Regions from separate parts of the Homo sapiens genome. Here region 2 is linked to region 1. The links come from fine-mapping of genetic effects on gene expression. A gene starts in region 1. The other region holds a variant in brackets. All regions are shown on one strand. Distances are between the middles of the regions. Region 1 holds the start of NUP107 (nucleoporin 107). Region 2 overlaps SLC35E3 (solute carrier family 35 member E3).

Region 1 (8,789 bases):
TGCTTCCAGTAAATTCCCTTTTGTTTAAGTTAACCATAGTCAATTTCTGTCATTGCAACCAAGAATACTAAACATAAAGCTACCATGTATACAATATACACCACATAAGAAATTTATTCCACATCCTTTTAAGGTAATGAAATGAATATGTTTTGAAATTTTGGCAGGGTTGCTATGGTGTTCATGCCTACTAATTAAATGTGTCAAAAGTGAAACCCAGTGCACTTTCCAAAAAGTTTTCCATCTTTGCATATGAACTGAACACAGGGCTAATTTTTTTGCCCCAAACACAGGGCTAATTTTTATTGTGTGCTTCATGGTCAATCACCTCAAGTACACTTCAAGTATACTACACGAATAAAACTCATTGGAATTCAACTGCTGAGGGACACAGAGCAAGAACATGAACCACAGATCATACTTTGAATAAACTTGCCCCAGCTCTGATTAGGACTACATTTCACTTTCCATAAGAAAAAGTGAACTTGTATACAGGAAAATTAGGAGGTGGGAGAATGAGACCATGCCAGGGCATTATTCTTCAGAAAGGTTATTAAAGGAGAAAAGTAACATTTCAATGACCTGCTATGTACAGTGTATACAGTTGATGTCTCTGTTTTTTTTGTTTGTCTGTTTTGTTTTTTTGAGACAAAGTCTCACTTTTTCATCCAGGCTGGAGTGCAGTGGCATGATCATAGCTCATTGCAGCCTCGGCCTGCCAGGATCAAGTGATCCTCCTGCCTCAGCCTCCCAAGTAGCTGGGACCACAGGCACGTGTCACCACACGTGGCTAATTTTTAAAACTTATGTTAGAGACAGGGACTCCCTATGACATCTTGTTTAATCCTCACAACACCCCCTGACAAAGGTATTGTTTTCTCCACTCTACAGATGAGGAATCTGCAGGTGCAGGGGGGTTGAACCTAGATGGAGCCCAAAGCAATGTTTTTATCAAAATGCCATGTTGTCTGAGAGGGGATAATAAGGTATGAAGAGGCCTTCCGGGGAACTATGCTTCCCAGAATTACAGCAGAACATAAATGCCTAAGGCAAAACTTCCACTGATTTCCTCTTTCCCAGCTGAAACCATGGAGGGTATTGAAGACAAGAAAAAGAAGATTCCTGCTGTGCCAGAAACCCTTTAAAAATGTGAGGGAAGGCTGGGCACTGTGGTTCATGCCTGTAATCCCAGCACTTTGGGAGGCCGAGGCGGGTGGATCATGAGGTCAGGAGTTCGAGACCAGCCTGGCCAGCATGGTGAAACCCCGCCTCTACTAAAAATACAAAAATTAGCTGGGCATGGTGGTGCACGCCTGTAATCCCAGCTACTTGGGAGGCTGATGTACAAGAATCGCTTGAACCGGGGAGGCAGAGGTTTCAGTGAGCCAAGATTGCATCACTGCACTCCAGCCTGGGCAAAAGGGCAAGACTCTGTCTCAAAAAATAAAAATAAAACACATGAAGGAATTTCACAGAGCTAAAGGTCAAGTGCCTGAGAAAGAAGTTTGCCCATAAAATGCTTTGAAAAGAAAGGAGAAGGCCAGGCGCAGTGGCTCACGCCTGTAATCCCAGCACTTTGGGAGGCTGAGGCAGGTGAATCACCTGAGGTCAGGAGTTCAAGACCAGCCTGGACAACATGGTGAAACCCCATCTCTACCAAAAACGCAAAAATTAGCCGGGTGTGGTGGCAGACACCTGTAATCCCAGCTACTCAGGAGGCTGAGGCAGGAGAATCGCTTGAACCCAGGAGGCAGAGGTTGCAGTGAGCCGAGATGGCACCACTGCACTCCAGCCTGGGCAATGGAATGAGACTCCATCTCGAAAAAAAAGAAAAAGAAAAGCAAGGAGAAAGCTACATCTATGAAAAAGCTAGGCACTGTCAGATGTGGTGGCTAACCCCTGTAATCCCAGCACTTTGGGAGACCCAGGTAAGAGGATGGCTTGAGCCCAAGAGTTTGAGACCAGCCTGGGCAACAACATAAGACCCCATTTCTCCAAAATATTTTTAAAAAACGGGGGAGGAGAGGAGGTCAGGCATGGTGGTGCGTGCCTGTGGTCCCAGCAACCTCAGGTACTAGGGAGGCTGAGGTAGGAGGATTGCTGGAGCCCAGGAGGTCAAGGCTGCAGTGAGCCGTGACTGTGCCACTGCACGTAAGCCGGGACAATAGGACAAGATCCTGTCTCAAAAAAAAAAAAAACAAAGAAAGAAGGAAGGAAGGAAACATAATTTAAAAAATCAAGTCCAAAAAAAAGCAAGCAAGAAGTAAAAAAAAAAAGCTCAGCACTGTCACAAGAAATATATGGCAAGAAAAGCTGGCAATTTCTATATACCTGTGAAACCCAAATTGTCACTTGCCTTAAGGATCAAATGTATCAATGGTGTGAGCCCAAAACTCTGTTGCAACTTCTTCACTTTCCCCAGATCTTCAATGGCAGCTTTGTTAAACTCAACAAGGCTTCAGTTAACACGCTGAGGATTGTGGAACCATATATCACATGGAGTACCTGAACCTGAAATCAGTAAATGAACTGATCTACAAATTGGTTATGGCAAAATCAATAAACAAATTACCTTAACAGATAACGCTTTGATTGCTAGATTTCCTGATAAATATGGCATCATCTGACTGGAGAATCTGATTCATGAGATCTATGCTGTTGAAAAACTCAAGTTCCTGTGATCCTTCAAATTATCTTCTCCACGAGGGAGAATGAAGGACTACCTATTTTGTATTAATAAAAGGTATAAATGCCAGCAACAGAAAAGACTATATCAACAGGCTTATTAAACGGATAAACTGAAGCATCTAACATTATTTTTGTAATCTGGTCAGTTAATAGCCAGTCACTACTTTCAAACTGGAAAAAACAAAAACCAAAACAAAAATGTGACTGACTCCTTCAAGACCAAAATACACCACTTTTTGCCTAGACGGCACTTTGAAATAGAGGGCAATACCATCATATTTCACGCTTGCCTTTCTACTTTTTAATACAGGTGAACTTTTTCTCCTTAATAGGAAAGAACACCAAGTAAAGAACAAATAGCAGTTATGGAAAATAGTTGCAAAAACTGCAGGGGGCTACAGAACAAAGGACTGAGTGTAGGCAGAGAGATAGAGATCCCCGAGGTGTGGGGCAGAGCCCACGCATCTGAATTCCAAGAACAGGCGCTTTCTGACAGAGAATACCAGGAAATGACTTCACATTTTTCCAGACTATCAACATACTTCATTCTTCCCAGTAGGAGAACCCAGGGCCTGTTCCACGCCCACAGACTTTGGTCAGGCAAAGCGGCCGCAGGGCGTCTGGGCTAAACGCAACCAGGAACACATTGGCAAACTTTTGCGCCTGCGCCCACCGGGCGTGCACCTGTAGGCTGAAGTCGCGCATGCGCTAGATGGGAACGTTGTTTCTTCTCCCCTACCCCTTTTCTGTGGGTCTGTTTTAGGGACAGACTGCTTCCGGGTCGAAGGGCTTGCTTCCGGAGAGCGGGAAGGCTAAAACGCGGTAGCTAAACTGCAGCCAACTTTGGTTGTGTGTGGAAAAGGCTTTAGCCATGGACAGGTCAGTACTGATGGTGGCAGCTGAGCCCGAAGTCTTGCCCGTCTCGCCTGTTGGCGAAACGAAATAGGTGAAACTAGACTCCCAGAAGAAGCCAAGGAGGTCCCGGGTGCTTCCCCTAAGGCTCCTTCCCCATGCCGGGAAATTTGGCCACAAATGGGGAAAAAGCCGCTTGGCGTGCGTCGGGGTGGGGTACAGATCATAATAGTCCCTTACTTTCCCACTACGTTCTGCGATCTATTCGGCGCTTTGGGGCAGCAACACTGTTCGCTCCTGGGGTGGGCGGGGTAGGTAGCGCGGCGTTCGAAATGCTAAGTGACCAGCCTGAGATCACAAAGCCAGTCAGTGAAGATACTGGGATCTCAGCCCAGACTTTCTGATTACAAGTGCCAGCATCAGATTCTGAGTTCCCTCTATGATCTGGGTACTGTGCTAGCCGCCTACAACAAAGATCAGTTATTCAAGATCCTTCCCCTCGGGGAATTAGTTGTGTAATGGAGACAACCAAGCAGTGTAAAGTGGTAAGTGTTTGGGGGCGATTAAGTCTCCTTGTCACTGTAACTATCAGGAAGACCCCTCAAAGAAGGTAACTTTCTAGCTGGTCTTTGAATAATAAGAGTACATTATTCGTACTCCAAACATTGAGTACCTACTATGTGACTGCCATTGTTCTAAAGGCGTTGAATATATATTATTAGCTTATTTAATCTTCAGAACAAGAAAAATCCTATGAGATGGGTACTGTTATCCTTTTTTCATATATAACACTGAGACTAAAAGAGGTTAAGGAACTTGCTGAAAGTTCGGAAGCTAATAAATACAAGAACCAAATTGCCAACCTGCATCTGTGTGTCTCCAGCCTACCTGAGGCTCTTTGAGGAGTAAGTAGTTGTTGACCAGGTGCTCAAGGGGGCAAATGTAGGTCTTTGTAAAAGAAGCATATTCAGAGGTGCTAGGATATGAAAAAAAAGTACGTGTAGCTCAGTGGTCACATGCAGTATACGTTTAAAGTGATGTTTGTGGCTGAATAGAAGACTGAACCCCTAAACTGGGGTCACATTGTAAATATCATTTTAGGAAATTTTTACTTCTATAGACCAGAGAGCTATCTGAAGGTTTTTTTTTTTGTTTTTAATTTTAATTGTTAAACGTTTAAAATTGTTTCTATGTGGTTGTTTCCCATACTTTCCTGCTGAAGGAATATCTGAAGGTTTTAAGTGGAGGAAAAGCATATTAGATTCTTGTCTTAAACACAGGCCTTTTAGTCCGCACAATTTAGTTTCTAGACCTTTGAGTGAAACTGACAGGGAGTGTTGTGATGGGACAGGAGACCTCCTGGGTTGAAATAACTTGAAGGGTCATTTTGCTCCAATTTACCACAATTCTTTTACTTACCCTTCTATCTCACAAGCTCTGTTTGTTGTTGTTGTTGCAAGCTCTGTTTGTTGTTGTTGTTGTTTGTTTGTTTTTTAATAGTACCCATGGTTTAAAGCATTTTGGAGACTGCAGAAAATCTTTTAAGAGAGAATTCCTGCAGTTAGGTAACTCCTCAATCCAACAAGGGAAATAAGATTCACTTTCATGAAGCAATTATCTAAAACAGTGTTATAATATAGATTCCAAGTGTTGAAATAATTCCTTAGGAGAAAATAACATAGTGAGTACTAGAAAGTCAGAGAAGTCTTTGTGCAGGTAAGATTTGAGTAAGGCTTTGAAGAATAAGCAGGATTTGGAGCCAGGAGTGCGTTCTCAACAAAAGATCTAAGACTTGGCTACTAGAATGACTATACCTTAACTTACTCAGGGTCCTTTACTCCAACTGTGATGATAAAATTCTTTATAAATGCTATATTCTCGTTTCACTTATATAAGCTTGATTATACTACTTTAGGAGTGGCTTTGGAGAGATATCATCCCCTGTAATCCGGGAGGCAGAGGTGACACGGACTGCACGGAAACAGAGTGCTCAGAAAAGAGTTTTACGTATCCTTTGCGATTTAAGCATCATTATAAAAATTGTAACATGTTTGGAATCAGTGTTGTAGAATTTTCTTTTTATAAGAGTATTAAATGGTAGCTATAATAAAATCCTGTAGAAACTTTTTTTCACTCCACAGAGCTGTCATTTGGTAAATATAATGCAAAAATTTAATGAGATCGTATTTCCCTAAAAATAAAGATATTTCTTACTGCTGACAGCTTCTGCTGAGATTAGATTTCTTTTTATTATTTGAAAACTGACTAAAAACATTTAGTTCAGTGTGTAGTTATCTAAGACTGACATCTGATCATTTAAATGGCAGAAGCAATGAATTATTTACCCTTTGCATTGAAAAATGGTAGCCCTAAAATACTTGTTCTTGAAAAATGTATTCACATAATTTGTATAGTAAAAAGATGGTTAATTCTCATTTTAGTGATCTCTTTTCTACATGGAAAACTTTTCTTAACTCGTTGTACAGTTCAGGCATCTCAAGATGAAAATTTTGGTAATACTACACCAAGAAACCAGGTTATCCCTCGAACTCCTAGCTCATTTCGACAGCCTTGTAAGATTTTTTGCTTTTAAAGCATTTAATAATAACGGTAATTATAATAGCAACTAACATTTATTGTAACATAATTAGTATAGTATTTGGTTACGATATCAATAAGCACTAATAATAATGATTGCAGTTATTATTCGTTTGAACTCTTGCCATGTACAAGGTACTGTACTTTCCATAAACACACGGTAACTATGACATGGGTATTGTTGGCCCTGTTTTACCAAAACTGAAAGTGAGACTTAGAGAAGTTAACTAATATATACAATAAGTATGTAAATAGGCTGGATGCAGTGGCCCATGCCTATAATCTCAACACTTTGGGAGGCCAAGGTGGGTGGATCACTTAAGGCCAGGAGTTCAAGACTAGCTTGGCCAACATGGCAAAACCCTATCTCTACTAAAAATACAAAAATTAGCTGGCGTGGTGGCACATGCCTGTAATCCCAGCTACTCCGGAGGGTGAGGCAGGAGAATTGCTTGAACCCGGAAGGCAGAGGTTGCAGTGAGCTGAGATTGTGCCACTGTACTCCAGCTGGGGCGACAGAGCAAAAAAAAAAAAAATCCCAGTTCCATTATTTACATACTCTTTTTTTGTTCTGAGACAGAAAAAAAAGAGTATGTAAATAATGGAACTGGGATTCAAACAATGATCTGTTTACTCCAAAGTTTATGCCCACTACACTGCACTGCCTCAGTATGCCTTATAAAATTAAAATATGAAGAATCCGTTGACTGATTAGTGTCTTTAACTGCTCAGTTATTCTATAATGAAAGCATCTGTAATTGCAGTAAAATGTTTCCTGTTAGGCTCAGTAGTACCTACAGCTCAAATTTAGAAAAATAAGTTAAATCCTTGTATCATGGAAATGTTAACATTTAAAGTATTTATTTGGTTAGAGTCTAAATAATGGAAAACTGAAAAATTTATTCTTCATTGTTTGTTTGCTTACTTTGTTTTGATAATGAATGCTCACGCACTTTAGGTTCTTTCTACCAACCTTTTGTTTATAGTTACCCCAACAAGCCGAAGCTTACTAAGGCAGCCAGATATTTCCTGCATTCTTGGAACAGGAGGGAAGTCGCCCCGACTTACGCAGTCTTCAGGGTTCTTTGGAAATCTCTCCATGGTATGTAGAAAAATAGGGCTAAGAACTCCTTTTGGGTCGAGTGTGGTGGCTCACATCTGTAATCTCAGCACTCCCTGAACTCCTGACCTCAAGTGATTCTCCCGCCTTGGCCTCCCAGAAGTCAGGAGTTTGAGACTAGCCTGCTTAGCATGATAAAACCCTGTCTCTACTAACAATAAAAAAATTAGCTGGGAGTGGTGGCTTATGCCTGTAATCCTAGCTGCTCGGGAGGCTGAGGTGTGAGAATTGCTTGAACCCAGGAGGCAGAGGTTGCAGTGACCTGTGATTGCAAAAGAAAAAAAAAAGAGAAAAAAGAACTTCTCCCTTTTTATAAAAATATGATATTTGATGTAAAAGTCTTTTAACAAATATTGAGTCAGAATCATCATAACAGTAACTTTAGGTTATATGGATTGAAATAATTAGACAGTAAAAAAACTGAAAACCTTATGCATCTGATATCACAGATGGAAACTGTGACACCAGCAACCTTTAGATGAAAATAAGATGTTTTAATCTGTCAGTTTGCTGACCAGAAGAAGTACATGCTGTGGTTGGTTGCTGATGGCTATAAAATCTGATCCCTGTTTTGAAGCATACAAGAGTAGGAATCAGAGGTTAACAGATGAAGAATATCTTAAGGAAGAGATAAAATGTATTAAAGGGGATAAAAGAGAAAATTGGAAAAAGTAGGTGAGATACTCTTTAGGAATCACTATGGAACAGTATTAAAAATAGCAAAAGAAATGTTATGTAAGCTGTGATGCAGAATGACTTCACCTAAGTATTAAAAATACACTATAGTAGCCGGGCATGGTGGCTCACATCTGTAATCCCAGCATTTTGGGAGGCTGAGGCAGGTGGATCACATGAGGCCAGGAATTTGAGACCAGCCTGGCCAACATGGTGAAACCCCATACCTACCAAAAATACAAAAATTAGCCAGGCGTGGTGGCACGTGCCTGTAGTCCCAGCTACTTGGGAGGCTGAAGTGGGAAGATGGCTTGAGCCTGAGAGGCAAAGGTTGCGTTGAGCCATGATCGTGCCACTGAACTCCAGCCTGGGCAACAGATCCAGACCTTATCTCAAGAAGGGAAAAAAAAAAAAAAAGACGCATACATACATATAATTTTTAGAAACCTTATTTGTTTTTAAAGTATCCACTCAGTGACAATAACTCCATCACTTTTCTGTATTTTTACTTTTTTGTTTTTTTTTAAGGTTACTAATCTGGATGACAGTAACTGGGCAGCTGCATTTTCATCACAGCGTTCCGGGCTGTTCACAAACACAGAGCCCCACAGTATAACAGAAGATGTAACTATCAGTGCTGTTATGTTACGTGAGGATGATCCTGGAGAAGCTGGTAAAATGGCATTGAGCTTTGTGACAAGTAGCTTTTCACTTTAGCAAGATGAAGGAAACCATTTCTTCCTGTTTCTGAACGTCATTATGTTTTTCTTTTCTTTCTTTCTGTCTTTTTTTCTTGAGAGAGTAGCTTAAACAACAGATTTTTGTGTGTGTGTTTTTTGAGACAAGAGTCTCACTC
Region 2 (8,789 bases), 84 kb after region 1:
GTCTGCACTGAGAACAGCTGAGTTTATTTGTGCCATTTAGAAATTCGTAACTGTAGGCTGGGCGCAGTGGCTTACGCCTATAATCCCAGCACTTTGAGAGGCCAAGGCGGGTGGATCACCTGAGGTCAGGAGTTTGAGACCAGCCTGGCCAACATGGCGAAACACTGTCTCTACTAAAAATACAAAAATTAGCTGGGCATGGTGGCGGGCGCCTGTAATTCCAGCTACTCGGGAGGCTGAGACAGGAGAATCACTTGAACCAGGGAGTCGGAGGTTGCAGTGAGCCGAGACTGCGCCATTGCACACCAGCCTGGGTGACGAGAGTGAAACTCTGTCTCAAAAAAAGAAAAAAAAAAAGAAATTTTTAACCGTAAATAGAACTTGGGGAGGGTGTTATATAATATATGTGTCAGTAGGAAGGCAGTAAGAAGATTGGAGTAAGACAGGATGGGGTTACATGTATATAAATGAATAAAATAAGTACTGCTAAAACTTGAGTCTGATAAACTTTTTTGCCCCGAAGATAATCATCCCACTGAAAAGAAAACTCTGGGGAAAATATGCCAGATACTAGGACCAAGCACGGAGACAAACCAGATACAGTGCTTTCAAAGAAAACATGCTTGCTGTCCTTTGTTACCAGTGTAATTGTAATTATTGTTTATTCTGTGTTAAGTGACTGAATTTCAATTTTTACCTTTTAAAAATAAAGAGAACCTCTTTTTACTTCTGTATTGCATATGAGAGCTGATGGAAGAAGGATGGCATCTGTGTAACATATGCATGGTAACGCTGACGTGTTCAGCTGTTCATATTTGGCCTGTCCAAATAAGCAGAAATGAATGAAACAAAATTCCATCTCCTTTTAGAAATAACATAAAGGAGAAATCTATCTCTGTGAAATGAAGTAAGCATTCTTCTGTTTCACTTTTTAAAATACTTTTAAAATCTTGCTGTTTTCAACCTATTAATGACTTTTTGAAATTGTATTTCAAAGCAGAAACATTAGGTTGGGTATGGTGGCTCACGCCTGTAATCCCAGCACTTTGGGAAGCTGAGGTGGGCAGATCACCTGAGGTCAGGAGTTCAAGACCAGCCTGGCCAATATGGTGAAACCTTGTCTCTACTAAAAATACAAAAATTAGCCAGGTGTGGTGTTGCATGCCTGTAGTCCCAGCTACTTGGGAGGCTGAGGCAGGAGAATGGCTTGAACCCGGGAGGCGGAGGTTGCAGTGAGCCGAGATCACGCCACTGCACTCCAGCCTGGGCAACAGAGCAAGACTCCATCTCAATAATAATAATAATAATAACAAAGCAGCAACATTAATCAAGCACTCTGTATTCACTCCGTCAGTAAATACTGTCGGGTGAATGACTGCAGAATGGCCAAAGGTGAGAGTTTGATTAAAAGAAAGGAGACCTTGGCCGGGCACGGTGGCTCACGCCTGTAATCCCAACACTTTGGGAGGCTGAGGTGGGTGGATCACCTGAGGTCAGGAGTTCGAGACCAGCCTGGCCAACATGGTGAAACCCCATCTCTACTAAAAATACAAAAAAATTAGCTGGGCGTGGTGGTGGATGCCTGTAATCCCAGCTACTTGGGAGGCTGAGGCTGGAGAATCCCTTGAACTTGGGAGGCGGAGGTTTCAGTGAGCCAAGATCATGCCATTGCACTGCAGCCTGGGCAACAAGAGCAAAACTGTCTCAAATAAATAAATAATAAAAGAAAGGAGACCGGATTTATTAGATGTGGTCCGTTTTGTCTTTCTGTTCCCAAACTTAAACTGGATTATACCTGCTAATATCAGGAATATAATGATAATTGCATTCATTCAACAAAAATTTATTGAGCATATACTGTGTGCCAGGTACTGTCCTAGGCATTATGGATATAAAACAGTTTTTATGTAGAGACAGTCCTATATTTCCTGTGATCTTAAGGAACATTTGTCTAGTATTAGAGATAGGACTAATTAAACAAAAACAAGACAAGAATAATTAAACAGCAAACTCAATGAATGCTAAAGGGAACATCGTTCTGTGAGCACATAACAAAAGAATCTGGCCCAGGCTTGGCACTTGTGGAGGGAGTCCATGAGGAAAGTTTGAGCTGCAGTCATAGATACATAGAAGTTAGCTAGCTAGGCAGAGGGAGGGTATTGCATTCTGGAAAGAGGGAATAGCACATACAAATGCCTAGTGGTTGGAGGAATTGTGATGCTTTTAAAGAACTGTAAAAAGGATGGAGTCTGGAGACTAAATTTGGGAGTGGGGAGACATGGTGTGTCCTGCACCTGGAAATGTAGATAGACCTCAGGCCATACAATACCTGGAGGCTATGGTAAGCATCTTTAGTAAGAGCAAGGGGGAGTGTTGTGAGCACTGTCACAGTAAATTTCTTTTTTTGAAATTAGTGGAGGAGAACCAGAGAGATGCCAGGAGACCAGTTAGTTGGGAGATGACTGTAGTTAGAGATGGTGGTAGCTTCAAAGGTAGTGGAATGAGATAAGTGGAAATAATTGAGTAGCTGGAGTCAACTGGACTGGAGATGGATTGGAAATGGAGGGCATGAGAAGGGGTGAAGTTAAGGATCACACTTCAGCTGGGCACAGTGGCTCATGCCTGTAATCCCAGCACTTTGGGAGGCTGAGGTGGGTGGATTGCTTGAGTCCAGGAGTTCGAGACCAGCCTGGGCAAACATGATGAAACCCCATCTCTACAAAGAATACAAAATTAGCTGGGCATGGTGGTGTGGGCCTGTGGTCCCAGCTACTCAGGAGGCTGAGGCGGGAGGATCTCCTGAGCCCAGGAGTTTGAGGCTTCAGTGCGCCATGATCACGCCACTGCACTCTAGCCTGGGTGACAGAGTGAGTCCCTGTCTCAACAACAACAAAAAATCACACATGTCTGATTTGCGCAGCTTGATAGAGAATGGTGCCATTCTCTGAACTAGGAAACACAAGAAGAGGACTGAGGAGAGGGATGAGGCAGAGGAATATTATGGGCCTTCTTGATACTGAGATATCCAATTAAAGATGTTGGCCAGGCATGGTGGCTCAGGCTTGTAATCCCAGCACTTTGGGAAGCTGAGGCAGTCAGATCACTTCAGATCAGGAGTTTGAGACCAGCCTGACCAACATGGTGAAACCCCGTCTCTACTAAAAGTACAAAAATTAGCTGTGTGCGGTGGTGCATGCCTATAATCCCAGCTACTTAGGAGGCTGAGGCAGGAGAATCGCTTGAATCTGGGAGGCAGAAGCTGCAGTGATCTGAGATTGCACCACTGCACTCCAGCCTGGGTGACAGAGAGAGACTCTATCTCAGAAAAAAAAAAAAAAGATGTTAATCAAATAATTAGTTTATAGAGGCCCAGAACTCAGGAAAATGTTTAGTTGAGGTGGAGATAAAACAGGAGTTTCTGGGGTATGCCTGATAAGGAGGAAAACAGACCAAGATGAGCTTGCTGAAGAAGATAGCATAAAGCAAGAACAGACTATAACTGAAGTTGAGGAACTCTGGTATACAATGATAGAACATAATGCTGCAAAAGAAACAGAGAAGGAACAAAGAGGTGGGAGGAAAATGGGCCGGGCACTGTGGCTTATGCCTGTAATCCCAACATTTTTGAGAGGCCAAGCTGGGTGGATCTCTTGAGCTCAGGAGTTCAAGACCAGCCTGGGCATCATGGCAAAACCCTGTCTCTACAAAAAATACAATAATTAATAGTTTCGAAAGAAAGAAACCTGCCAAGCAAAAGTCCGGTCTCAGCCCGGGAGCTAGTAGCATGCAGTGGAACAGGTCTCACCTGGACGGCAGCACTGGGACTTCCAGTCCAGACTCTGCCATTCACTGGTATAGCCTTTGGCAAAGCCTTTGGGCAGCTTGCTCAAATCTTACTTCTCAGTTTCTTCACCTATAAAATGAGGGCTTTGATCCAAATAATTTCCAGGGGACTGTCCAGCTCCAAAATCCCCTGATTCTGCTTTTTCAGATTAAAATTATAATTTCTCATTTGCTTATAATAAAAGTAGATTGAATAAATTAATCAGAAGGGTTTGGTTTGTTTGACCTTTTTTTTAATTTTAATTTTTATTTTTTATTTTTTGAGACAGAGTTTCCTCTGTCTCCCAGGCTTGGTTGTTGTGGCTCAATCTCAGTTCACTGCAACCTCCGCCTCCCGGGTTCAAGCGATTCTCCCGCCTCTGCCTCCCGAGTAGCTGAGATTACAGGCACCCACCATCATGCCCAGCTAATTTTTTGTATTTTTGTAGAGACAGGGTATCACCATGTTGGCCAGGCTGGTCTTGAACTCCTGACCTCAGGTACTCCGCCCACCTCAGCCTCCCAAAGTGCTGGGATTACAGGTGTGAGCCACCACGCCTGGCCTGTTTGACCTTTATAAGATCAATTTTTTTGTTCACAAGCATTTCTTTACTCATAGATACCATTTTTATAACTTATATGAGACGCATTTAATGTAATCATATTACTTTCTTATATTAGAAGATAGGATTTCTTCTGATGTATCGAAGTTACTTTATACTTCATATGAAGTCATTAGGAGGTGAATTATTGCCAATTCAATGAATTATTTATGAGTATTAGGGGAATGTTTTTGTTATGCTGCTTTTAATTTGGAAAGCAGCATATCACTCAAACTATAGTAATTCACATTTTTCCATTTAACTAAAAATGTCTCGTAACTACTATGCCACAAGAACAAGCATGGATACTTATTTAACCAGCCAAGACTATGCATTTCTAAATATTTATTTTTTTCGGTTATCCGTAGACTTTTCCTTTTGAAATCCAACGATCTGTATCAACCACGT[C/A]TTCATTTTCCTTTTCCTGTTTGTCTTACTCTCCCCCCAAAAAGAGTCAGTTTCCTGTTTTCTCAATTTCTCAGTTTAAAATTAGAGCCCTATGGCAGGTGCCATGTACAGCTGCAAAGGTGGCAAGAAGCCCTGAGAAAGCTCAAGAAGCAGGTCAAGGGGGTGGGTAAGGAAGATGGGACGTTCAAGCAGAAACAAAAAGAGGAGCTAAAAGTGAAAGCCACCCCGCCACCAGCCCTCACCAGTCACAGGTGGAATTAAAGAAATCTGGCAAAAAATAAATTTTGTTATCCGTGCTTGGGGCGGTGACCCTTGACCCCATTCCTATTTAAACATCTGGATTCTCTGCCATAACATCTTTTGCCACCTATAGCTACAATAAAGTGTCGTCTTGGAGTCTGTTGTACATTTAAGAATAAACTTTTGTAAGGAAGTAAAAAAGAGTCTACAGTTCAGTGCAGGATAGGGATGGGTGGGCCTTAATTCAGGAGGTGGGAGGCTCAAAATCAATTACTCTGTTGAGGAGATGGAATCTCCTGGAATCTCAAAAAGGATTTCCTTTAGGAATCATCAGACTCATCCGACTCGTCAAGTCTTTCTCTGCTTGGAGTTTTGTTTTGTTTTTATTTTGTTTTGTTTTGGAGATAGGTTCTCCCTCTGTCACCCAGGCTGGAGTGCAGTGGTGCAATCACAGCTCACTGCAGCCTCGAATTCCTAGGCTCAAGTGATCCTCCCACCTCAGCCTCCTGAGTAGCTGGGACTACAGGTGTGCACCAACAGGCCCAGATAATTTTATTTTTTGTAGAGACGGGGTCTTGCTATGTTGCCAGGCTGGTCTCCAACTCCTGGCCTCAAGTGATCCTCTTGCTCTGCCTCCCGAAGTGCTAAAATTACAGCTGTGAAACACCGCGCCTGGAGTTTAAAAGCAAGATTAACCTTTTTGGACTGGAGTTCTTAGAGAATTATGGTGTGACTCATTGACCATATTTGTTAGGATCAGCATTTTTATATGATTTAACACAAAATGTTACAGAAAAAAGTGCAAAAATGTTGTAAGGCACAGTTGGTTTCCTAAGCAAATGCCCATTCCTATTCTTTGTTCATCTCCACTCTAGAGGCTAGAAATACTAAATTCTCTTTTTACCTCGTTGCCTTGTAGAGGGATGATCATATGACATTTCACCAATGGCACATAATTCAAAGTCTGCTGAGGATTTCTAGGGTATCCTGATTAAAAGGGACAGATGTGGCTGGTAGTGTCTATTACCACCTCCTTCCTGCCTTAAATGTAGCTGCGGATGTCTAGAATTGTGCTAATCAGCTTATGACTATAAAAGAGAGGTGAAGAGAGCCAGATCTGAAAGTGGTGAGCCGACCAGGCACAGTGGCACACCTGTAACCCCAGCACTTTGGGAGGCCGAGGGAGGAGGATCATTTGAGCCCAGGAGTTTGAGACCAGCCTGGGCAACATTGCAAAACCTGTTCTCTGTGAATAACTTAAAAATTAGTCAGGTGGCCAGGCGTAGTGGTTCACACCTGCAATCTCAGCACTTTGGAAGGCTGAGGTGGGTGGATCACCTGAGGTCAGGAGTTCGAGACCAGCCTGACCAACATGGAGAAACCCTGTCTCTACTAAAAATACAAAATTAGCTGGGCGTAGTGGCTTATGCCTGTAACCCCAGCTACTCGGCAGGCTGAGACAGGAGAATCGCTTGAACCAGGGAGGCAGAGGTTGCAGTGAGCTGAGACCACGCCATTGCACTCCAGCCTGGGCAACAAGAGTGAAACTCCATCTCAAAAAAAAAAAAATTAGGTATATTGGTGTGCACCTGTGGTCTCAGCTACTCAGGAAGCTGAAGCAGGAGGATTGCCTGATCCTGGGAGGTTGAGGCTGCAGTGAGCCATGATCATGCCACTGCACTATATGCTGGGCAACAGAGGGAGACCCTGTCTCAAAAACAAACAAAACAAACAAAAATAAGCAAAAAAAAAAAAGTGTTGAGCAGCTAAAACAATGCCGTTAGATGCCCTATCTCTTAAAAAAAAAAAAAAAAAGATAAAATAAAAGAAATTGGGTCTTGTGGCCAGGTGCGGTGGCTCACGCATAATCCCAACACTTTGGGAGGCTGAGGTGGGTGGATCACTTGAGCCCAGTAGTTTGAGACCAGCCTGGCCAACACGTCTTCTTGTTCTAGATGAAAAGTAAACCCCTATTTGGCTTACTCACTTAAAAAAATAATAATAATTAGAGACAGGGTGTTGCTATGTTGCCCTGGCTGGTCTCACTCCTGGGTTCAAGTGATCCTCCTGCCTCAGCCTCCCAAAGTGCTGATATTACAGGCGTGAGCAACCATGCCAGCCTGGCTTAGCCACTTTTAATTATTACTCGTAGCTGCAAGAATGCCAATGAGCATTTGGGGTAAAAAGGGGCAAGAATGGAGGACCTGCTCTGTCTGTCGGACTTTGGAACTCAGGAAGCAACAACTAAGCGTACTCGTTGTCTTAGTCCATTTTGTGTTGCATAGAACAGAATACCTGAAACTGGGTCATTTATAAAGAAAAGGAATTTATTTCTTACAATAGTGGAGACTGAGAAGTCCAAGGTACAGGGTCCACATCTGGTGAGAGACTTCTTGTTCCTGGGAACTCTCTGCAGAGACCCAAGGTGGCAGAGGGCCTCACGTGGTGAGGGACTTGAGCATGGTAGCTCAGGTCTCTCTTCCTCTTCTTATAAAGGCACCAGTCTCACTGGGCAGAGCCTTCATGACCCAGTCACCTTTTAAAGGCGCCATCTCTCAATATTGCCACATTGGGGATGTTTCCAGATGAGTTTTGGAGGAGACAAATATTCAAACTACAGCACTGGTTAAAAATAAAAATAGGGCCTGGCGTGGTGGCTCACGCCTGTCATCCCAGCAGTTTGGGAGGCTGAGGCAGATGGATCACCTGAGGTCAGGAGTTCGAGACCAGCCTGGCCAACATGGTGAAACCCCGTCTCTACTAAAAATATAAAAATTAGCCAGGCATGCTGGCGTGTGCCTGTAATCCCAGCTGCTCAGGAGGCTGAGGCAGGAGAATGGCTTGAACCCGAGAGGCAGAGGTTGCAGTAAGCTGGAATCACACTATTACACTCCAGCCTGGGTGACAAGAGCGAAACTCTGTCTCAAAAAAAAAAAAAAAAAAAAAAAAAAAAAAAGGCCAGACTTGGTAGCTAACACCTGTAATCCCAGCACTTTGGGAGGCCAAGGCAGGAGGATCACTTGAGGTCAGGAGTTGGAGACCAGCCTGGCCAACATGGTGAAACCCCGTTTCTACCAAAAATACAAAAATTAGCCGGGCATGGTGACGTGTGCCTGGCAGAGGTTTCAGTGAGCCGAGATCATGCCATTACACTCCAGCCTGGGTGACAAGAGCAAAACTCTGTCTCACAAAAAAAAAAAAAAGGCCAGGCATGATGACTCACGCCTGTAATCCCAGCGATTTGGGAGGCCGAGGCAGGTGGATCACTTGAGGTCAGGAGTTGGAGACCAGCCTGGCCAACATGGTGAAACCCAATCTCTACTAAAAATACAAAAATTAGCTGGACGTGGTGGCAGGCGCCTGTAATCCCAGCTACTCACTCAGGAGGCTGAGGCAGGAAACTCACATGAACCCTGGAGACGTAGGTTGCAGTGAGCTGAGATCACATCACTGCACTCCAGCCTGGGAGACAGAGTGAGACTCCGTCTCAAAAAAAAAAAAAGAAAAGAAAAATTAGTCAGCTGTGATGGTGTGCACCTGTAGTCCCAGCTACTCTGAAAGCTAAGGCACGAGAATCGCTTGAACCTGGGAGGCGGAGGTTGCAGTGAGCTGAGATCATGCCACTGCACTCCAGCCTGGATGACAGAATGAAACTGTGTCTCAAAAAGAAAAAAAAAAACAAAAACTAGTAGCTAGCCCCACCCCCGCCATTTTTCC

The links. PIP is the estimated chance that this variant, and not a neighbour inherited with it, causes the effect. A credible set is the group of variants that fine-mapping cannot tell apart.
Region 2: its variant is the best candidate, but not a certain one, in a credible set for the expression of NUP107 in tibial nerve (GTEx, PIP 0.58).

Annotation. Positions count from the first base shown.
Region 1 is chr12:68,683,507-68,692,295 of GRCh38, forward strand. NUP107 (nucleoporin 107) reads left to right here and starts at 3,472. Exons shown (of 28, transcript NM_020401.4): 1 at 3,472-3,567; 2 at 5,456-5,547; 3 at 6,027-6,113; 4 at 7,125-7,240; 5 at 8,462-8,606. The coding sequence starts at 3,560. LOC100507250 (a long non-coding RNA gene) reads right to left here and starts at 3,353. Exons shown (of 3, transcript NR_038930.1): 1 at 3,231-3,353; 2 at 2,357-2,511. It also overlaps the pseudogene RPL7P42.
Region 2 is chr12:68,767,952-68,776,740 of GRCh38, forward strand. SLC35E3 (solute carrier family 35 member E3) reads left to right here. Exons shown (of 5, transcript NM_018656.5): 5 at 1-8,789. Among named protein-coding and RNA genes, the nearest start is that of SLC35E3, 26 kb to the left of the region's middle. The variant C/A (reference allele first, on the strand shown) is at 4,833.